Linked DNA regions of Homo sapiens: region 2 is linked to region 1. Evidence: fine-mapped expression QTL. A gene starts in region 1. The other region holds a variant in brackets. All regions are shown on one strand. Distances are between the middles of the regions. Region 1 holds the start of LINC02988 (long intergenic non-protein coding RNA 2988). Region 2 overlaps VPS45 (vacuolar protein sorting 45 homolog).

The links.
Region 2: its variant is fine-mapped to the expression of LINC02988 in whole blood (INTERVAL, PIP above 0.99).

The regions. Positions count from the first base shown.
Region 1 is chr1:150,154,744-150,166,623 of GRCh38, forward strand. LINC02988 (long intergenic non-protein coding RNA 2988) reads left to right here and starts at 5,985. Exons shown (of 4, transcript NR_135098.1): 1 at 5,985-6,067; 2 at 9,453-9,559. It overlaps PLEKHO1 (pleckstrin homology domain containing O1), which reads left to right. Exons shown (of 6, transcript NM_016274.6): 3 at 1,323-1,463; 4 at 2,168-2,272; 5 at 2,642-2,743; 6 at 4,076-5,322. The coding sequence ends at 4,780. RefSeq lists enhancers at 4,113-4,614, 5,745-6,054, 8,403-8,592, 10,220-10,269, 10,450-10,719 and silencers at 4,915-4,964, 6,665-6,734, 7,323-7,392.
Region 2 is chr1:150,079,628-150,091,507 of GRCh38, forward strand. It overlaps VPS45 (vacuolar protein sorting 45 homolog), which reads left to right. Exons shown (of 15, transcript NM_007259.5): 8 at 1,715-1,849; 9 at 2,257-2,370; 10 at 3,089-3,256. Among named protein-coding and RNA genes, the nearest start is that of VPS45, 18 kb to the left of the region's middle. The variant G/A (reference allele first, on the strand shown) is at 7,092.

The DNA of each region.
Region 1 (11,880 bases):
TTTAGTTTTAATGAGACAAGTGCTGGTGCTTTTAATTCTCATTCCAGGAAAACGTGACCAGGTTTTTCCTGAGGTGTTCCAACCCTGGGCTCAAGCCACGGAGGGTGGACAGACTGCACGGTCTGGACTTGTAACTAAGTCTCCTCTCTGTAACTTTGGTCCTTGCTAGCCAAAACAAATCCATAAGCCACTGCTTCAGAGTCCCAGAGTTGTAGGAACACCACCTTAGGGGAAAAGAGAAAACATTGTGGTCAGTTTCAGATGAACCTGCGAAGAAATGTTCCTAGAGCTGCTTTGCAGTGCTCAGAAAAGGCTAGTTGGGGTTGGAGAATGTCACTAGGAATGCGGCCTCGATGAGACGTTCAGCAGGAGTGCTAAGAGCTAAATGTTGCTTAAAACCTGCTAAAGGTGGAACCAGAGTGCGGGACGGAGACTATAGCAGGGAGGGCTAAGTTTAGATAGGAGGAAGAGCTTCCTGGCAGTAAAGGGGGCCCAGGCACTCAAACTGGAATAATGGCAAGAAGTCACAGAAGTCACTTTTTTCCAAGTCTAAAGTGTAGTCTCCCAGGGAGAGTCTAAGTGCATTCTTGCCTAGAGATAGGGGGTCTGGAGGAGTTAGTTTGGATTGTCACAGTACCTTAGAGGGAGGAGGAAAGGGTAGGAACTGTAATTGTAGTTTTCAGCTTCTCTGGACAAATTCAGCAAACTGAACACGGGGCTGCCGTCCTGTGGTGGCGATGCTCCTGAAATGAACAAGGAAGATGAGTCTCTATAATTGTACATACCAGAGAAGGAAGCGAGGTGGGGTGGGAGAGCTATACTGCACACATGTGAGTGGGGAGGCCAGAGACCGCCCCTCGTTCCCTCCAGACACCCCGATAACTGGCCCTGCCTTGATCTTCTTTCTGTGGACCATCAAGGGCCATACAGGTCTGTCTTACTGAGGGCAATGGATCAACCATCTACCATGTCCCTTTAAGGACGTGAGCCTTTTTAGAACATGTAAGCTGTGTCCTTAAGGAAAAGAGTGGGGCGGTTGGTGAAGAGAGGCATAGTGGGACTCTGGAAATGGCAGCCTGGCTAAGGAGAGTGAAGAGAAGGGGTTTAAACAGAAACACACCTTAACATTCAAGACTTGGAGCTGCCCTAGCGTCCTCCTCGATGTGAGGACCTTGTAGGCTTTGGGCAGACGGCCCTCTCCTCTCCTGGCGTGCCTCCCTCTCCTCAGGCTTCCTCTGTTTCCCAAGATGATCTAAACTAACAGTCTGGGTGGAGGGGCTAAATAATTTTATCCTCCTCACCTCACCCCAACCCTCCCCTAGGTAAAAGATGAGAAAAATATTCAAGAGGTATTTGACCTGAGTGACTATGAGAAGTGTGAAGAGCTCCGGAAGTCCAAGAGCAGGAGCAAGAAAAATCATAGCAAGTTTACTCTTGCCCACTCCAAACAGCCCGGTAACACGGTATGTTTCTCCTGCCACCTTGGCTGCTGGAACATGGACAGGGTTGGAGGGGGCAGGGGAGAACTCCTTCCCCTCAGTTTCTCTCTCAGCAATCTTGGTTCAGATTCCCTGAATTGCTCTCCTGCTGGCTTTTATCATTTCACCTGAGAATATTGTAGCCATTTCCTTCTTTCCAGGCAGGCCACCCTTTAACCTGTTCAGCCACAAAGATCATCTCTCTATATATCTCTTTATTTTTCTCTGTCTTATACACACACATCCACACATGTGCATATTTACATCCCTTAGAAGAAAATCCCTGTCCTTGTACCCTGATAGGTGGTTGAAGTTCTGAATCTAATTCATCTTGTCTGAGGGAACCCAGGGAAGTTATTCCTGTCACATTCTATTTCTTCAAACATTGAAAGATTTGTATTTTAATACCTATCCTTCATCAGACTTCCTCTAATTATCTCTAATACCATACTAATATTCAGTATCCTTCTTAGCTCCTCCTTGGTCATTTCTAAAACAACCTCCTAGCTATGCATTTTGCAGGAATAGAAGCTGGGTTTCCTTAAGTTATGGATGACTCTGGAAGCAGAATATCTCTCCTTCCTGGAGCTAGGTCTAAGAAAGTGAGATTATAATCTCTTATTTCTTCATTGTCAAGGTGAGGCACCACCTCTAAAACCCTGGCTGAAACAGGAATCTTCCCCTCACAGGCACCCAACCTGATCTTCCTGGCAGTGAGTCCAGAAGAGAAGGAATCGTGGATCAATGCCCTCAACTCTGCCATCACCCGAGCCAAGAACCGTATCTTGGATGAGGTCAGGGGGCTCACTGTGGGGAGAGGGAGGAACGCTGGGGCAGAGGGAACAGCTGTGACCCACTGAAGGGGGAGGATTGTGCAGGCCCCGTTTACTCGCTCCTCCACCAGCTCTACTTCTTTACCACCCTTTTAAAAGCCCTGATCTCTTTCTACCTTCTCTCCAAGTCTCATCTGACACCTCCTCTTCCCCGCTTCATGATGGGGGAGCCAGCCTTGGGTCAGCTTAAAGAGCCCCCTTCGTGTCCAGTAAATCCCCTTGCCCATTCAGAAGCAGTGAATGGAGTGGGCACATGTTCAGGCCTCGGGATGCTGGGTTGGGACAGCGAGTCGCTGAAGAGCACTCATGATTCACAGTACATCTCTTCAGGTCACCGTTGAGGAGGACAGCTATCTTGCCCATCCCACTCGAGACAGGGCAAAAATCCAGCACTCCCGCCGCCCCCCAACAAGGGGACACCTAATGGCTGTGGTATGTAAGACTGTAATAAACATTGCCAAAGGGCCAATTCTGTGTCAGTCCATCTCAGACAGAACTGTATGCCACCAGAGGCATTTGCGGGAGGCCTCCTTGATGCCAAGATCAAAGGCGAGGGAAGTCCTTCCACCCAATGCCTCTGCCAGATCTAAATCAAAAGGTTTTATTCAGCGCCCATTAGGAGTTCAAAAGTCCCAGCTCCCAGTAATGTTACCCTCTTTCGGAGAAAATGAGTTATACCCACAGGAAAATGAAAAATTAGCTACTGTATGGTGGCTGTCTTGATGGGTAACAACATGTAGTACCGCGGGTGTTTGGAGGAGAAAGGATCACAATGAACTCCTGAAACATACAACGTGCTAGTTTCTTTCATGCCTCTGAGCTCTTAAGTCTTCAGAGAGAGAGGCAGGCAGGTATAATGCAGAGAACACAGGCTTTGGAGTTAGAACCTGAGTTGGAACCTCACTGTAATCAGCTACCTGTGTGGTTCCCTGAAGTTGCATGTCTCCAACTGTAAAATGAGGCAGTAATCATGCCTGCCTTGAAGGGCTGCTGTGAGGAATGACTAAAACAACATATTTGGTATTGAATACTCATCATTTTTAGTATTCTGGAAATAAGAGAACAAATTTTATTATAAGGCAAGGGGGCTGAAGTGTGGGACTCAGAGGATGCAGATGGAGGAGGACAGTCGTGCCATGGGGAGCATCCTGTGTGCATCAGATGCAGTTTAATTGCTGAGAGTCCACAATACCAAGGAAGAGGGCGCCCCTCAGGAAGCTTATGGTAGAGTGGAGAATACAGGAAACAAGTAACAAACTAAATCACAGAAGAAGAAACATTCAAGTCACTATCAAAGGAATAAGAAACAGCACATTCAGTAGGAGGGTTCAGTCAAGAGCAGAGGGCTTTGCCAGGCAGGGGGGCTCACACCTGTAATCCCAGTACTTTGGGAGGCTGAGACGGTGTATCACTTGAGGTCAGGAGTTTGAGACCAGCCATGGCCAACATGGTGAAACCCTGCCTCTGCTAAAAATACAAAAAAAAAGAGCTGGGCGTGGTGGTGCACGCATGTAATCCCAGCTACTCGGGAGGCTGAGGCAGGAGAATGGCGTGAACCCGGGAGGCGGAGCTTGCAGTGAGCTCAAATCGTGCCACTGCACTCCAGCCTGGGTGACAGAGCAAGACTCTGTCTCTAAAAAAAAGTACTTCTCATTCAAGGAAGGCTTGTAGAGGAAAATGACCACAGCTTGCATCTTTTAGGCAGTCATTCCGAAAATCCCTCCTGATGACAGGTTCCCCACTCATTCCCCCCTTCCTCCACAGGCTTCCACCTCTACCTCGGATGGGATGCTGACCTTGGACTTGATCCAAGAGGAAGACCCTTCCCCTGAGGAACCAACCTCTTGTGCTGAGAGCTTTCGGGTTGACCTGGACAAGTCTGTGGCCCAGCTGGCAGGGAGCCGGCGGAGAGCGGACTCAGACCGCATCCAGCCCTCCGCAGACCGGGCAAGCAGTCTCTCCCGACCTTGGGAAAAAACAGACAAAGGGGCCACCTACACCCCCCAGGCACCCAAGAAGTTGACGCCCACAGAGAAAGGCCGCTGCGCCTCCCTGGAGGAGATCCTATCTCAGCGGGATGCTGCCTCTGCCCGCACCCTCCAGCTGCGGGCTGAGGAACCCCCAACCCCTGCCCTCCCCAACCCGGGGCAGCTGTCCCGGATCCAGGACCTGGTAGCAAGGAAACTGGAGGAGACTCAGGAGCTTCTGGCAGAGGTTCAGGGACTGGGAGATGGGAAGCGAAAGGCCAAGGACCCCCCTCGGTCTCCGCCGGATTCTGAGTCAGAGCAGCTGCTGCTGGAGACGGAACGGCTGCTGGGAGAGGCATCATCGAATTGGAGCCAGGCAAAGAGGGTGCTGCAGGAGGTCAGGGAGCTGAGAGACCTGTACAGACAGATGGACCTGCAGACCCCGGACTCCCACCTCAGACAGACCACCCCGCACAGTCAGTACCGGAAGAGCCTGATGTGAGGGCAGGGTGGGGTCTGGAACTTGTCGGGTTGGACAGACTCTTATCTCCGTGTTGCTGGATAAAGCTTTTTTATTTACCTCAATCAAAAAAAGAAAACAAAAATGAACTCATTGCTCTTGCTGATGCCTGACCCCACTACAACCCTTATTGCCCCACCTACTTTCCATATGCCCCTCGTATGCCCCTCAGGTTTGAGGAAGTGACCCCGCAGCAGTAGCAGGAAGTTTTTACCCAGCCAGAGAGAGAGAAGGCACGGTAAAGACACAGTCTGACCACTCCACACACCGCCCGCCCCCAAGACGGCACAGGGAGTCCACTGCTGCTCCCAAGGATACAGTGGGCTTCTAAGCTTAGAGCGGGAGGGGGATGAGGATGTTTTCTGTTATGTCCCACCCCAGGCCTTCAGTTTGAGGGTGAAGTTTCAGCTGCCCAACTCTAGTTGTAGGGATGTGGAGGCCAGTGTCACCTGTCCGTGCACATGGAAGTGAAATTTATCCCAGCCCTGAGGAGGATTTGTGGAATTAAAATCTCCCCAGCCAGACACTGGCTTCTCATTCCTAGCAGTCTCTCATTGAGATCGAGCTGCCTGGATTTTCTTACATGAGGTGTTTCTTCCCTTCATCTTCCACACCCTTCCCAACCTTGACTCAAAGATCCACCCTTGTCGGGCGCAGTGGCTCACGCCTGTAATCCCAGCACTTTGGGAGGCCAAGGCGGGTGGATCACCTGAGGTCAGAAGTTTGAGACCAGCCTGACCGACATGATGAAACCCAGTCTCTACCGAAAATACAAAAAATTAGCCAGGCATGGTGGTGGGCGCCTGTAATCCCAGCTATGCGGGAGGCTGAGGCAGGAGAATCACTTGAACCTGGGAGGCAGAGGTTGCAGCAAGCCAAGATTGTGCCATTGCACTCCAGCCTGGGCAACAAGAGCGAAACTCCGTCTCAAAAAAAAAAAAAAAATCCAACCTTGAGTGGATGAGACTAGTTTCATTATTTGATTCAGGGCCCTAGCACAGGGGAACTAGAGACAGACCCCACAGAAGAACTGAACTAAGAATGAAACTGGTGTGTGATGCAAGCTGGGTAGGATGAAGGGGAAAACCAAACATCTGTCCAAGTTCCTCTTTCAGCCATGCTGAGGTTTCCTGTAGCCTCCCCCTCTCCTTCCTCAAACCTCTTCCATCACTAAGCAAGTCCCCACTTTAGAAAAGCATCTGGATGCCCACGCCACCACCCTCCCAGCCACCTCTGAAGTTGCCAGGCTTCCCAACATTCTTGTCTGTGGTAGGTCCCACACAACTCACTGTTCACTCTTTCCTTGGAAGTGTGTGAGATGAGGTTTAGTAACGGTGAGGTCCCCAGAAGAGCTATGAAGGGAATAATTTGATTTTGGGAAAGAAGGGGACAGAGTCTCATGAATCAAGTAAATGAGGGGTTAAAAGCCACATTGAAGTGTGCCTTGCTAGCTGCTTGATCCTCCAAGAGCAGCGGGGCTTCACTAGAGGTAAGGGGAGGAGGGGGAGGAAACGGGGCCAAGTTACATGTAGACCTGGCCATGACGCTGCCCCGATGTTATAGGAAGATGGGATAGGAGGAAGCGGGGGAAAAACCTGTGGGAGAAACAGATTCTTCAGTCCGCATTCTTCTGCTCTAACGTCACTCCTACAACCCATGTAAGCAAAATGGGGGCCTCTGTCCCCTTTCCAGAAATCATCTCTTTCCTTCACAGCTCTTCTCTGGACCTTATCACTGCTGTTAAACCATCCCTAGGGCAGAGGAATTCTTGCTCTCTCTAGTCCCTTGCCACTCTGTCATGGAGATTGTCCCCAGCTCTAGACTGTAGTTACCTAGCCTCTTCCTTGAAGAATGTGTATCCCAGTTGAGTGAGGGAAAGTGTGCAAGAGTGCCACCTTCATGTCATTCTATGGTCTCTTGGGGTATGAGGTGAGAACCCAGGCTTCCAGACTTCCTGTCCTTCAAATAGCTGCACTCTCCACAGCCCTAAGCATGGTCAGCAGAGCCATCCATTGTCACAAGTATTGAAGTCTAAGGTAGAATTATGCTTTCTTTTTACAAGTCTCTATCTTTGTATTTTACCAGCATTTTTCCTTTTCTTTTTTTCTTCCTTGTTGCTCCCACATAATGAAAAAAGACAAAAGCACAAATGACATGTGTATCCCAACATGTCAATTATCTGTGGCTCCCAGGGGAGCCAGAAGATGGAGGGAGACACTAGAGAGGAGAATGACAGGTGAAAGAAGCAGAAAAGAAAGATCGGGGACCTCACAACAGTAAGAGAGGAGCTGGGCACTGTGCTCCTGGGCTTCAGGCTCTAAAACCAACAGCTTCCAGTTCTCCAGCAGTTACTGGAACATCCAGGCCCTAGGGTGGTGAAATGAGCCCAGCTTTGAAACCAGATGGATCTGGATTCAAATTCTAACTCTGTTACTTCTTGATTATGAGGCTCTGGGCAAGGCACATGCTTTCCGAGTATCAGTTTTTTTCATCTGCAAGCTGCAGAGCTATTGGATGGGTGAGGACAATATGGAAAATGCCTGTCAGTCAGAAAGTGACCACTGCAGCTACTGTTACTGGTTTGACTCTGGGCAGTGAGCCGCTAGCTCAGTTGGAAGGAGCACTGTGTGAATGAGGCCACCGGGGTGGGGTCACTGTCACTTAGCTAGATCCAGGCCACAGGCTGTGCTGGACCTCTCTCTTCAGAGGAGAGAGCCAGAAGGGATGAAAGCATGGTCCCTGGTCTTCAAGAACTTTAGAGCTTAGCATGGAACCAGGCTTCCCACTAGAAAAATCGCTTAAGGTGCACCCTTGTGGTAGGCTGCTGGCATGAGTTCTGTTGAAGCATTTGTATTGAACCTGGGCACTGTGACAGGAGGATGGGAAGGTGCTTACGTTCATTTCCCTTCCTCCCAGTGCTTCTCCTCCCTCACTTCATCATTTTAGCCCCTCTGCCTGCAATATTTCCCTTCCGTGCCCCCGGTAACTGTGATGCGTGGCAAATGGGCTGGCTCAGTAGCTGTGTGGGGCAACTTTCTCAGCACACAGCTGCCCCCAGACACTTTCAGGGTGCACTTATTCTCCCTCCCTTTCCACTCCCAACCGCTCTGCTCCCTTCTTTTCTTACACAGATGAAGCAAAGGGAAGTGCCCTCCGGAGGCCCTAGGATGGGGAGACGGGGTAAGGGGTGGAACCCAGGACACAGAGTTGAGAGGGGGTGAGGGGTAGAGGCAGGTAAAGAACGAAATCTTAATTCTCATTTCAGTGACACTTTCCTCAACTTTTCCTGTCCTTCCCCATCAGGTTGTTAGCCAGGGGCCTGAGGAGGGATAAAGGAACTGCAGTCCCGGCTCCCTCCATTAGGAAGAATGTCTGGGGTGTTGGCCTGGAACGCTGATGAGTTGATTTCCTTCTATCTCCACAGCATAGGTTTACCAGGGAGAAAAGAAAGGTGCAAATTTCTCTAACTCCTGCCCTGGTCCTCACATACTATGCGGTTCTGAGCCTAGAGCTCTGTCCCTGGGGAAACAGCTCTCGCCTCCTTCCCCAGCCGCTCTCCCAACCCCTCTGCCAGTAATAAATTTGCCTCATTCTCCCAGGAAATGAGTCTCTAAGAATCTCTCTTCTATCTAAACCTCACAGGCAAGCAGTCCCAGCCCACTTCTGCAACCCTCAAGCTCAGCTACTGCCCCCACCCCCCACTTCGTCACTCCCTTCTCTACGCTGGGTTCCTTTCTCTTTCTGCTTTCTTACTACCTCCCTGTCTCCCAACAGGAGCAGCCAATCCCCAGCCTGCTCTAGAGCCACGCCATATATGGAGAGGTTGGAAAGAAACCCGAGTAAATGCAGGAGCGAACACACACACACACTCATACTCATGCACATACTCATGCACACACAGCAGAGTTTGACCGCCTTTCTGCATGTGACCCTGTGTCTATTTGTCTCTGTGTGACACAAGTCCCACCCACAGAATGAGGAGGCTGTTTGCTATTCCCCACCTTTAGTCGTGCCCCAGGAGACCATCACTCCAACCCGTTGCCTCTGACCTAGATTCCTTGCACTAATTACAAGCCTAACAAGAGCTAACAAACACCCCACTTAGAACAGCTGAGACCCTCGAGGTCAATTAGTGCAGCCCAGCTCTGCTCAGGAAATGAGAGATAGAGCCAGAAAGTCTTGTACATGGCCCACCCCAACCTCACCCCAACCCTGGGGTTGGAAGCAAGGATGGGGAGAATGCAAAAATTAGCAGGACCAGTTTAAAAACGGGGTTTTGGAGGGTTAAAAAGTGTGGAGAACACACTTGTTAAGTGCATTAAGGTTGGGGAGCAATTGGAGAATACAGATTCCCAACTCCTCCTGAACTATCAGAAGTGTAGAGGCTGGTGCAGCTACAGAAACCATGGACATAAGGCGGCTTTCATAAGGACTTAATATGAGGAAAAGTAACTCATAGAAAGGCAAGTAGCACTAGAACTCTTGACCTTTGTCATGGTCTCCGACACCAAATCCCTTCTCCTCTTTGCTTCCTGCTGTGAACAAGTTGGGGTTATCACCCCTGTCCTTCCTGCTGGTTTGGGATGGCTCAGAAATCACCCCTTTCTTTCAGAAATAGTAGGCTCATGTCCGTTCTTTCTTTCCCTTCCTCCAGATATTAAAGCCATGACAGCAAACAGCCCCTTTCTCCTAAGGTTCCTGATTTGAAGTGGCAAAACAAGGCAGTGGCATAGTCTCCTGTCCTATGTCCTTGGCATGCAGGTCAGTTGTCCTAATACCATCCCTAATGTTTTTGGCTCTATCAAGTGGGGGAGGCAGGGAAGAGAACACTAGTGGAATACTCTGTGCACAAATAGGGAAGTGGACTCAAAAACACAATGTTCCTCTTGCCCCAGCCTCCACCCAGCTCTGGCTGCAGAGGGCCGCACTCCGCTTGTACCGCAATTCATGCACAGTCCAGACTTATACAGCAGCCGGCAACCCTAAGGGCAGGATGATTCCGAGACACACCAAATCTGTATGTTGATGTGTTGTCCCAAATTTATTTCTCCAGCCTAAATTTCCCTCTCTGGCACTTAGAGCTAAGTGTCAACTTGACATCTTTACCTGGGTATCTAACATGCATCTTAAATGTACTATAAATGTAATAAATGACTAAATAATGATCCTCAGTGAACCAGCCCCACTCCAGGCTCCTTTGCAATATGAGTTTGCTGTTCCTCCCTTTTGAGAGGTATTGCTTTCTCTCCAACTGCTGCTTGAATCTGGGTTTGCCAGTGACTTGTTTTGCCCAATAGAACAAAGAACATGTGCTGTGTACGTTCCAGCGCCTAGGCCTTAAAGGGCCTTGTAGTTTCCACTCCTTTACTCTCTTAAAATTCAGGTGCTTCTAAGAAGCCTGGGCGAGCATCCTTGCTATGAGACCATGAAACCACATGGCTCTGTCCCAGCATCCAAGCCTCCAGTCAGACACAGCTGGAGCAGCACACAAGCAAGACCAGAGACCAGCCGCTCGGCCAGCCCCCAGAAGTGTGAGAAACTAACAAACCATTGCTGTCTTAAGTCACTAGGTTTTGGGGTGGTTTGTTACTCAGCAATAGATACTAAAACAAAGATTGTTTCTTGGAAGTGGGATGCTGCCCTAACTAAAACCTGAAACAAGTGGCATTGATCTTGGGACCCAGCAGCAGACAGCCTAGAAGGGCAGCAAGGAGACTTACAGAGTCTGGATGAGCAGGGAGAAAACTGCTCTCAGAGACGGGAGAAAGACCACCCGTGTTATATGGCGGTGGAATCATTCACAAAACTGTCACCTGTGGTATCTTGGGAGCTAGAAAATATACCTAATAAATTTGTTGGAGGTAGCTAAAGAGACTTCCAGGCAGAATGTTAAAAGTAGCAACAGGCTTTTCTTAGCTGTGATTGGTAAGGTATTGCAGGAAAGAGGAACTAAAAAAGAAACTTTTCAGTTTGCAAGCAGAATTTGACAGAAAAATAAGAGACCAGAACAGTCTCCAGCAAGAAAAACTTTCACCATTGGTAATTTAGGAGAATGTGCTGATGGCAGGGACCACCTGGTCAGTGAAACAATTCAGGCTTTTGAAAAGTACAGAGATAAATTGTACCCCATAAGGATGGGCAATAACAGTGTGTCCATTTTTAACATTAAAATTAAAACACACCAAAAATGCACAGGAGAACAAAGCACACAATGACAAAGGAATTGGCTGTTACTCAGCTGCACTGGTATCGTACAGAAAGATAAGGAAAGGCACTTAGCAAACAACTGAAACTAAGTGTGAGGGCCAGGGGCTTCTTTGGTAGCAAAGAGATCGCCTGCAACAGAAGAGCCATAAAAGATAGACAGAACTCAGAAATTGATAGCAACCAGGAGCTTCAAAAACTAACACCCCACTGAGGCTGAGGCAGGTGGCTAGAACCCTCAGCCAAGGTAGATCTGCCCCATCAAGATCAAGGCCGTGGCTGAGAATACCTGGGCTGGGATTCCAACACGCAGAATGGGGACATCTGGTACCTTGGATGGTGGAGATCCCTGAAGATTTTGGTTCCCAGATTCCTCTGACCCCACATACCCTGCTAAGAGGACCCACCCCTCTCTATTAAGAGCTAGCACCACCTGCTGCCCAGGAAAGGCAATGCAGAGATCTCTCCCTGAAACATAACAGGAGTGCCCCACCAGATCAGCCCCATCTCCTCTTCTGGCTACCAGAATAACTGGACATAAGTCACCACGTAATTCAGAGCCAAGAATGTGCTGGGCCTTACAAGGAAGAAAGGAACTAAACCAAGCATGTACCCACAGGAGCGGGGGAGGTTCCCATGGACCTAGAATTTTTTTTTGTTTTTGTTTGTTTGTTTGTTTTTTGATATGGAGTCTTGCTCTGTCCCCCAGGCTGGAGCACGTGGCACGATCTCGGCTCACTGCAACCTCCGCCTCCTGGGTTCAAGCGATTCTCCTGCCCCAGCCTCCCTAGTAGCTGGGATTACAGGCACCTGCCACCACGCCCGGCTAATTTTTTGTAATTTTAGTAGAGACGGGGTTTCACCATGTTGGCCAGACT
Region 2 (11,880 bases), 75 kb before region 1:
TCTCGAATTCCTGACCTCAAGTGATCTGCCCGACTCGGCCTCCCAAAGTGCTAAGATGACAGGCGTGAGCCACCACGCCCGGCTGTGACTTTGTATTTACAGAGAAAGGCACAGTCTATGTTTCAGTTTCTTCCCAGCTTGTACTAATGTTAATGCTAAGGGAAATCTGTGGAGTGAAACTTCTCTGTAGTATAAAATAGCCTTGTATTCCTAAAATTCAAAGTAATATATGTTCACCAAAGAAACTTTTGATAATATCAAAAAGTAGAAAGAAAATTAATTGCCTATTATTCTGTCTCCCAAAGAAAAGCAACTATTTATCCCACAGATTTCACTGGGGACTTCTTTTGTGCCACGTACTAAACTAAGTACTAGAGATAAAAGGTTAAAAGTTACAATTTCTGTCCTCAAAGAGCTCATGGTCCAATTATGAGAAAAATAAACATAATTTTAATTGTAGAGTAAGTGCTAGAAGCATGTACAAGAAGCTATCCATAAAAGCATAAAACATTTTGTTGTACGTTTTTTTTTTTTTGAGATGGAGTTTTGCTCTTATTGTCCAGGCTGGAGTGCAATGGTGTGATCTTGGCTCACTACAACCTCCGCCTCCTGGGTTCAAGTGATTCCCTGCCTCAGCCTCCTGAGTAGCTTGGATTACAGGCATGTGCCACCATGCTCGGCTAGTTTTGTATTTTTAGTAGAGATGGGGTTTCACCATGTTGGTCAGGCCGGTCTCGAACTCCCGACCTTAAGTGATCCACCCACCTCAGCCTCCCAAAGTGCTGGGATTACAGGCATGAGCCACCATGCCCAGCCTTGTTGTACTTATTTTAAGTGCGACTTAATGGAACTTGCTTTTTCAAGAATTCCTTTGGCAAATCTTTTAGGAAATAAGCACCTTCTTTTATAACCTTCTAAATTATTTCTTAATAAATCTAGTTTTCTTAAGATAAAATATGTATATAAATATTTCTAGCATTTAGATTCTAGATGCAGAAGGGAACATGCTAGAAAATACTTCATTTTGTCTAACAGACCTATGACTGAAAGTAATCTATTCTCCATAATTGGTGAAAAGGGAAAATTTGGAGATTTCTCATTTCCAGTTTTACCAAATAAATTCTCAATTTGTGAGACTGGAAACCAGTCCTTCCTCTCATCTCCCCTTAGGTAAAAATATAAAATAAAATGGGTTCAAAGGTAAGTTTCTGAATATCCCAGTGTTTTGATCAACTCACAAGGTTTTTCTGATAATATTAGTGTTCCCAGGACAAATATAGTACCACTCAGATCTGCAAGAACACACTTCTCATGCTGCAGAAAACCATAGAAGCATACAGGAAATGGTACAGCTTGTAACTGCAGTACCAATATAGCTCTATCTGTGAAGCCAAAAATATACTCTTAATTCACAGGCAAAAAATTGGAGCTAATAATAGCTCTAATTTGTTTTCTTTCTATCAAGAATATTAATCTTGCTGCCCTTTTTCCAAAAGTATGAAATCTAAAAGTATTTTGACTTTTCTTCAGTGTTTAATCAATTAAAATGACAGTCTTAATGCTTATAGCACAAAGTATGAATAAAATTTAACTCGAGAATCTTCATGTAAAGAAGACTAGTTAAAGAATGTTATCAGTTTTTATTTGTTTTCCTGAACGTTTACTATTTCCATATTCTGTCAGTTACCTTTTTTTTTCATAATTCTTTATTTAGTGGACATATCAGGCCATGGTCCACGAACTACTAGGCATAAACAACAATCGGATTGATCTTTCCAGAGTGCCGGGAATCAGTAAAGACTTAAGAGAAGTGGTCCTATCTGCTGAAAATGATGAATTCTATGCTAATGTAGGTGGTTTAAATTTTTTTAAATTGTCTTTAGTTGTTTTTATGTAAGAAGATCAATATTGGCTTGTTAGTATAGGGGCAGGCATGGGATTTCATGTGAAAGGATGATAGGGGCATCCTGTGCATAAACTGCCTCTGAAGGGAAGGCAGAAGACTTGGATTCTGACCCTTTAGCAATTTTTTTTCATAGAGATCACGTAGTTATTTACTTCTCTCCCCTCCAGTAGCTGTTTGTGAGAATAGTAATGGTATTCATCAACAGTGTCCCAGCTAATGTCCAAATTTGGTAATTAAAATAGAATTTCCCTGCCCTTCAATTCTGTGTTCCAAATTCTTTTTCACTTCTTTCAAGTTGTCTGAAAGTCAGACTAGTTGATGAAGTGTGCTTCCAACTTTCTTTTTCACAGAATATGTACCTGAACTTTGCTGAGATTGGTAGCAATATAAAGAATCTCATGGAAGATTTTCAGAAGAAGAAACCAAAAGAACAGCAAAAACTAGAATCAATAGCAGACATGAAGGTAAATTGAACATGTACATGAATGACAAACATGTGACAGTTTGGTACTATTCATGTAAGCAACACTTTTGGAATCTTCTGGGTCTAATTTCTACCTTGATTGATTTTATTTGGTTTGAGACTTATTTTCTGTAATGTCTTTAAACAATATAGTGAAAACTTTATGATAAGCCATGTGCTTCTTTCCATTCTTCAGTAATATCTGGACTATTTAAAGACTCAATCTATTGCTGGGAGCAGTGGCTCACGCCTGTAATCCCAGCACTTTGGGAGGCCGAGGCGGGTGGATCACCTGAGGTCGGGAGTTCAAGACCAGCCTGACCAACATGGTGAAACCCCGTCTCTACTAAAAATACAAAATTAGCCAGGTGTGGTGGCGCATGCCTGTAATCCCAGCTACTCGGGAGGCTGAGGCGGGGGAATCGCTTGAACCTGGGAGGCGGAGGTTGGGAGGTTGCAGTGAGCCAAGATCACGCCACTACACTCCAGCCTGGGCAACAAGAGCAAAACTCTGTCTCAAAAAAAAAAAAAAACTCAGTCTACCAACATATACCAGTTCTTCTCTTCTTAAGCATAACAAAATGCCATGTGGCTGAAAGTTGTAGATGCTTTAATCTGGGCTGAAAAACAACCCCCGCTTTCCCCAACCCCCATTCAGTACATGCTTATCCTCAGTCAAAAAATAACAGAACCTCCCATTGATGTTTTTCCCATGGCAGGCGTTTGTTGAGAATTATCCACAGTTCAAGAAAATGTCTGGGACTGTTTCAAAGCATGTGACAGTGGTTGGAGAACTGTCTCGATTGGTCAGTGAACGGAATCTGCTGGAGGTTTCAGAGGTTGAGCAAGAACTGGCCTGTCAAAATGACCATTCTAGTGCTCTCCAGGTCAGTCCAATTTGATGAGCACCTACTATGTGTAAGGCACTGTGCCAGGCAGAGCAAGAGATAAAAAGGCAAGTAATCCTTCTTCATCAACATGGAATTTAGTCCAACAAGGAGCTGACATGAGAACACAAATTAATATTATTTAAGATAGATCTATAAAAAGAGTCACAAGAGAAGTGTAATGTGCAATTCCCAAGGGTTCAGTTAATTAGTATAAGGGCAGCCTAGTCTACTAGAAAGAGCACCAAACTAGAATCAGAAGATCTAGATTGGAGTGTTTGGTATACCACTTACAGGCTTTGTGACATGGAGCTGTTGACTTAATCTCTGAGCCAGTTTCATTATTTGTAAAATAGGTATATTAATACTCATCTCACAGAGTGGTTAGGAAGACTTTAAAAGATAAAACATATATTAAAATGTATTGTCTAAGTTTTTTCATTATTGAAGATCTGCTTTTCATCGCACCAACATATTAATGCCTGCTATATGTATATACTACTGCTGTGAGGATCTGAATACAAAGATGAATAAGATACCACATTACAGTAGGGGAGAAAGAAATTTAAACCAGCAATTGTAATACCAAGCACTATGTACTATATTAGAGGTATTTACAAAGGAATATGGAAATACAGAGGAAGGACAACTGTTTTCCCCAAGGATGAAGCTTCTTAGCACTTCTTAGGGAAAATAACATCAAACAGGGAAAAGGAAGAAACATTCTCAGCAGAGAGAATGCAGGCATGAAGATGTGAAGAAATAAATATTGATATATATATATATTTTCTATATATATATAAAATATTTATATTTGAAATATACATATATTTAAATATATATATGGGAACAGAGAATAGTTCAGTGTGGCTAGTCCAGGGTACAAGATGAGTGGTCTTAGACTGGAAAGACTGACTGAAGCCAGGTTATGGCCATTGGAAGGAAGTTGGGCTTTAATCTTAAAATGATGGGGGCTCCCGGAGGATTTTAGAAGAATAGCAACATAATCAGACTCTGGCCTCAAGAAATGTATAGTCTAGTTGAAGAGACAAAACTAAAGCACAAGAAAAAATTAGATAATGTTTCAAGATGAGAATTAAGTCATAATTGTAATACTGACTGTAACAGGTTTTGAGGTTATTAGGAACAGTTCTTAGAGAAGGCAAGATTTGGATGGACCACAAAAGAATGAATAGAATTTGGGGAAGGAGTTCAGCCAGGAGCAGCAAAAGCAAAGATGTAGAAATATGCAGGAAGTAATAAACAGTTTGACCTGTAGAGAGTGAGTATGAAACAGAATTAGATAAAATTGAATTGGTAAACAAAAAACAGTTTACAAGCTTTATGAAGAGGCTTGTAAGAATTTATACCTGCTGAGATAAGCAAAGAGATCCAGTATAGGATCTTATGTAGAAAGTTGAGGTGAGGAAGGCAGTATTTTAGGAAATGTAACCTAGTAAGGATGCTTTAGAGGTGAAAAAACAGGTCAGAGAGACTTGTAGACTTACAGTGATAGTAGTAAAAATGTACAGCAAGGGGCTGAACTGAAAAACATTTCAAAGGGAGAAGAATTAGACGACAGGCTGGATATAAAGATAGAATAAATCAGAGGTAATCCCATGTTTCCTGAGAAATGACAAAGTATGATGTCACTGACAAGTAATTTAGGACTACGAGTCCTTTAGGAAATAGCCATTTCTAAGCCACTTATAAGAAGCACATTTCCCTGTTAATAGGGCCCTATATTCTAAAGCTTAGCTTCTTTCTTTCCCAGCTACAGTTCCACTTTATTCTATAAAATAATGCCAACCTGTTATATTGGAAACAACTCAGGTTTTGGACCCAGACTGGCTTGGCTTATATCCTACCTCTCCTTACCAAAGTTTCTTTGGGAAAATTACTTGATTTGCCCAAGTCTTGGGGATTATGATTTCAAACTTTCAGACTGTTACGATGATTCAATGAGATATGTAAAATGCTTCACATGTAATAGGTGCTTTGTAAATGTTAGTTCCCTTCCTCTAAGCATGATTTTTTTTTTACACATAGTGCAAACAAAAGAAAGAAGTCTACCTGTGGGTGCTCTAGTTATACCAGGGTCTTTACTGGGACTTATTGTTGTTGGGTTTTGGATCAGAACCTAAAGTCGCATTCTTTTTAATCACTAAATAGTATCCTTTGTAAAGATGTATCCTAATCTATTTAACTTGGCCTTTAAACAACACTACTAATAGTATTTTATAGTTGTTTTGTGGGCCTAATAGAAATGTCCTGATATTTACCACAAAAAATGAGTTTTCTGCCTCTTATTAAATAAAAAACAAAATTGTGTCCCGTAACTAAATTTAAATTTCTTATATTTCTTTATCATTTGATTTTTCCCTTGAAAACAGTAGAACCAGACTTAATCACTAGCCAGTTTTACTGTCTTTATTTGTATCTCTCTACATGTGGAAAGCAATTAGAAAAAGTTCTTGTAATAACTTGTCTGAAACTTTATTTTTGTGTTCACTTTAAAAGAAAAATAGTCACTTTAAAAATATAAATTCTATTTGTGATCCACTTTTTATTTTTAGAACTTATCTTTTGAAGGTTTTCTTGTCTAGGGTATTGGGATTTTACAGTGAGCAGTTGATTTGGAGTCCCCCATCATAAACGACTTATTTGGCAACATAACTTAAATAGTCTATAAAGGGATCTTTTGTTTGATAGTAAGTGGATGTCAGGGGCCTGACTTCTAGAGGGGTTATAGCATTCCTTGGCTTGACCTTAGATGATAATACGTCATGAAGCAATGAAATGAGGTTTGTGAGTAGAGATGGGGTTTGCTTTATTGAATAGTATCATGACAAGAAAAAAAAGCATGTATTGCTAAAAGTTAACTTAAAAATTGCTGCCATTCTAACCATTATTTTGTAGGCTAATGAAAATTTCATTTAGAAAGAATTTCACTAGAACCAAAGTGAAATTTACTACCACTGAAACATATACATATCCTCAGAAGAGATTTATTAATTAGTAATGAAGATTTGCCATACCATGAAGAAAAGCATCTTTAGAAAGTGAGCAATTCCACCCTTACCATCCTCCCTATACCCTGCCCCCCATGCCCAGCCTGTGTTGTCATATCACAGTTTTTCATTTGGAGAGAGGAACCAGTCTATTTTGTATTTTTTCCTGACCTTTCATAAAGATCTCAAATCATCCTGTTAATGATACATAATAAGGACTCAATAAATATTTATTAGAAAAATGAGGAGGAAGAGCTCTATTTGAAGCAGTATAGAGTAGTGGCTAAGAGCTTGGGCCTTTGATGGCTTGGGTTTGAAAATAATTCCTAACCACTCTAAAACTCAGTCCTTTTGTCTATAAAGGGGGAAAAATAATAGTACTTACCTCAGAATTGTTGTGAGAGTGCAATGAGCTAATACATGTAAAACACTTATGGTACTTGGTACTTACAGCTTTCAAGAAATATTAACTACCAACATTAAGAGTATTATTATTTGATGGTACATTTAATTTTCTTAATGGCATCCAAGACATGTTTTTTAGTTCAGTGATAGCCTTGTATCTCTCTGATTTCAGAAAAGTGTTTGGTTTTTTTGTGTGTGTGTTTTGTTTTGTTTTGCCACTCATTAAAATTATAAGAAAAGTGGTTGGGACACATTGAACTGACTGACAATTTTACTTTGATTAATTAAATGTAAAAATGATCCTTTTACTCTAAAACAACATTTAGCCAGTATTTTAGAAATAGTATTGATCAGCAGAAGATCTACTGCAAAGCTCAATTTTATGTTGACTAGTCATTAAGAAAAGGAATACTGGCTCC[G/A]ATGTATTTACCAGTCAGTAGAATTGGGTCTTGTCTGCTTTCTATCATTTTTCCCTGATAAGCTTTTTATATTCCCACAACACTGTTCTCTCAAACTGTTAGGCTCATTTTTGTCAGATCAGCATGTGGAAGTCTTCTGCCAATTCCATCTTACTGTCCTAATCTGTTGGTTTATTTTGTTATTCTCTGACTTTACTACATTAATATAGTAGATAACAAAGAAGGGATCCTGTTCTTTAGGTTAAACTAAAACAAAAAAAAAGACGGAGACTATCTTTATTACCAAGACCAACTGTAATCTGTATAATAGTTTGAAATGTGTGTATGTCATAATGATTTCTTCTTGCTGTGCTGCTTTATCATAGTTTTGATAGAAGAAAACAGAAAAGTAAAAAAAGATTTAGCCAGAAACAATGGAAGAATCTCTAAATATCAGAAAAGAAGAATGGTTTTCTCGTTGATGTCTTATAAATGAATGTTAGTTCCTTTAGGAAACTTGATCTCCAAAGACACTATTTTTGCTTTGCTTTGCTTTGCTTTTCCTATTCCTTGATTACGCCCACACAAATGTTAGAGTTCAGTGCAAGGTTTTCGAATCCTGTCTTCTTAAGTAGATGACAATTTTCTGTTTTGCTCTTTACTCAGTCATTGTTATAATGTGACAGTGTTCTTTTCTAATAGTCACAAGGCTGATGGAAAATTTAATAAGAGAAACCAAAAAATTATGTAATTCAGTTAATTTCCAACAGATAAATACTACCGTGTAGCATATAACTTGCTTTGTAATTATAAGCCTCTCTGATTCTTTTTTCTCCTCTTCTCTGGTTAGTGCCCTGAAATCTCAATGTAATGTATGCCACTGTCAATCAAGTTGACAAGTCAAGTAGTTATGAGGGAAATCCTTCAAAATGAAGTCAAAGGATAAAGTGGGATCAAGGCAGACAAAAAGGTCCTGCGTCTCCAAGGACTGATACAGCTGAAAGAAAAGAAAGAACTCAGCTTGTACCTACAGGTTTCTTTTCATGAGAGAATAGATGCCTCTAGCTAGAACATGGACCTGAGCCATGAGTTGGGTCCTAAGGGCTCAAAAGTAGGCAAAATAATTACTCGCAGTAAGCCTGGTCAGATCTGGGCCAAGTCCTCAGTCAAGAACTAAGAGTCAAGCCAGGCAATCTAAATACCACTACCAAGTCTCAAGGAATGGAAGTGGATTTTTTTTAGGATTGATGCATAATGATTGTACAGATTTATGGAATACAATGTGATGTTTCAATACATGTATACATTGTGTAGTGATCAAATCAGGGTAATTAGCATATCCATCACCTTAAACATCTGTCATTTCTTTGCGATAAGAACATTTAAAAACCTCTCTTATAGCTATTTTGACATATATAATACATTATTGTTAACTCTATTCATGCTACTATGCAATAGAACACCAGAACATATTCCTGCTATCTAACTGTAGCTTTGTACCTATTAACCAATTTCTAACCACCCCTATCCTTCACCATCCCATCCTCTGGTAACTGCTATTCTGCTCTCTACTTCTATGAGTTCAATGAGAACAACTTTTTAGATTCCACATATGAGTAAGATCGTGCACTATTTGTCCTTCTGTGTCTGATTTATTTCACTTAATGTAAGTCCTCCAGGTTAATCTGTTTTGCCACAAATGACAGGATTTTGTTCTATTTCATGGCTGAATAATAAATATATATATATATATATATATGCTGCTATTTTCTTTTCCCTTTTTTCTTTTTTTTTTTTTTTGAGACAGGGTTTGGCTCTATCGCCCAGGCTAGAGGGTAGTGGTGCAATCTTGGCTCACTACAACTTCTGCCTCCCAGGCTCAAGCTACTCTCCCACCTCAGCCTCCCCAGTAGCTGGGACTACAGGTATACACTGCCATGCCCAGCTAATTTTTGTATTTTTGTAGAGACAGAATTTCACCATGTTGTCCAGGCTGGTCCCCAGCTCCTGAGCTCAAGCAGTCCACCTGCATCGGCCTCCCAAAGTGCTGGGATTATAGACCTGAGCCACCGTGCCCGACCTAAATACTGCTTTTCTTGGTCCATTCATCTGTTGATGGACATTTAGGTTGATTTTATATCTTGGCTATTTTGAATAGTGCTGCAGTAAACATAGGAGTGCAGATAGCTCTTCAACATACTGATTTCATTTCCTTTGGATATATACCAAGTAGTTAGATTGCTAAATCATATAGTAGTTCTATTTTTAATTTTTTAAGGAATCTTCATACTATTTTCCATAATGGCTGTACTAATTTACATTCCCACCAGTTGTGTGTAAGGGTTCTTATTTCTCCACGTCATCATCAACAACACTTACTATCTCTAATAAGAAACAGCCAAGAGTCAAGATCCAAGTGAAGGTAAATAGAAAAGGGCAGAGACTGATTACTGCAAATAGTCTTTGACTGTCATCATACCAGTTTTGTGAATTTATAGTTACTTGGATTTCTCAGATTTGCTTAAAAGTACAGAGACAGATCAGCCAGAAAAGGTGGTAAGAGAGTGACTGCAAGGGCAGGAAATGAGACATTGTGCCTATAAGAAAAGTAACAACAGAAATCCCAAATGGGATTTCTTTTCTTTTTAAAAAAATTTTTTAAAATTTTTATTTATTTATTTGAGACAGTTTCACTCTGTCGCCCAGGCTGGAGTACTGTGGCACGTAATCTCGGCTCACTGCAACCTCCGCCTCCCAGGTTCAAGCAATTCTCCTGCCTCAGCCTCTTGAGTAGCTGAGACTACAGGCACCCGCCACTACATCCTGCTAATTTTTTGTATTTTTAGTAGAGAGGGAGTTTCACCATGTTGGCCAGGCTGGTCTCGAACTCCTGACCTCAAGTGATCCACCTACCTCGACCTCACAAATTGTTGGGATTACAGGTGTAAGCCATGGCACCCGGCCCCCAACAGGATTTCTTAATGTTTTAAACTTACGCTGTTGATTGAGATACATACATAATTTGTACCTGAAATTTCTTCATATTATAGTAGAAAATAGTGGAACATTTGAACAGATACCCTAAATGGGCTGTATTCCGTGGCTGCTCTAGGGGAAAGATCCCATGAAAGGAAAAAAATAAGAAAAATCTTACGAATTTGGGATCGAAATCTACAGAAGAGAAGTTTCTCCCTTTTTGATCCCTTAAGGATGATGGTAGTGAAATAGTAACCCAAAAAATCAACAATAGAAATCTCTTTCAGAGAACTCTGTACTTGAAAGCTACATGGGAGGTTCCCCATTATCATCATAGTCCCTAGTCAGTGTGAACAGAAGAGCTCTTAGACATTGGACATGGTTGTTGTCAGGTACAAAAGAGATAATGTACGTGAAAGCATTTTGTAAGTTGTAAAGTAATCATATAGTTGATAGTTATGTCCTCAGAATTCAGTGCCCTTCAAGGCTCTTGCCAGCCTTTCAAACCAAGCCATTTCTTCCTCTGATTTCCATATTTATTTTGATAGTGCCACTGCTTTTGGTCTCTCACACTGGTTCCAATACTTACTGATTCTTCAGGACCTTTGGCAAGTGTCACCTCTGTGAAGTCTTTCCTAATTTCTCAACAACCCAATATACTTTCTCTTCCCCTTTCTCTCCCCTTCCTCTTTTGCACTGATTTTCAGCTTTTGCTTTTTGTTTTGTTTTTTGCATACATGTTTCTGTTATAACACCACATATTTGTTCCTGAAAAACCTCATATTCTATAAAAACATGCACTAAAAAAAGGGTTATGAGAATATAGGGTTATAAGCAGACCACTTAAAATCTACATGACTATAGAAAGAAAGAAAACATTCATATAATTTTTAAATCAGAGCCCTAATAAAAATAGTAACAATTATAATAAAAATACTAGCATGGTTAAATCTCCACCGGCATTTGCACCTAGAAATAGAGCCAGTCCATCCTCTGCAGCCTTATTCCTGGGGCTCATGTTTTCTTCAAATTATAAGGTCTTGAAAATACTCACTTCTCATAAAGACTACTTTGTCAAAATTAAAAATACCATATGGAGACAGCTTTCTTCATCAATCAGTGTTTGATTGTTATTTTGTTTTGTTTTGCTTTTTTACACAGTGCAATATATTTGCATCCTTTTTATTTGCACTTGCCCTTTCCCCATATAGCATAACACAGTGGAAAGTGCAACAGTTCTTGAAGCTACAAAACCAGATACTTCTTGCAGAACACACTTCTGTAGGATTATCATCTTTTTTTCTTAAGGTATTGGTAAGGCTTCCCCTTTAATCATAAGAAAGCCTATCCATTCTGGAAAAATTACATGTGAACCAATATGCCTTCTGTGTTAAACTGACACCATTTCCATATTTATCCATCTCACAGAACTAAAGTACATTAAAGAAACATGTATATAGCAGAATAAATTATATTACTTTGATCATCCTTCACCCCATTGACTGTGAACTCACTGGGGACAGGAATTGTCTTTAACTTATCTGTGTGCCTGCAACAGTGCATGACATACTGCCTTATGGGGACTCAAAAGTATTTGTTGACTTGAATTAAATTATTTGTTCTGCTGCATAATAAATATAAATCTATACTATATGGAAGGTCCTGAATATGAGGATTAAAAAATGTAAACATGGCTTCTCCTGGCCCCCTTTCCTATCGGTACCTGCCTCTTAAAATCATTAAGTACTAAATCTAGAGATTACATGCTATTACATACTCATCTCTGTCAACCATGTTGAGACATGTTCTGATGCTTCTTAGAGATCAAGCCCAG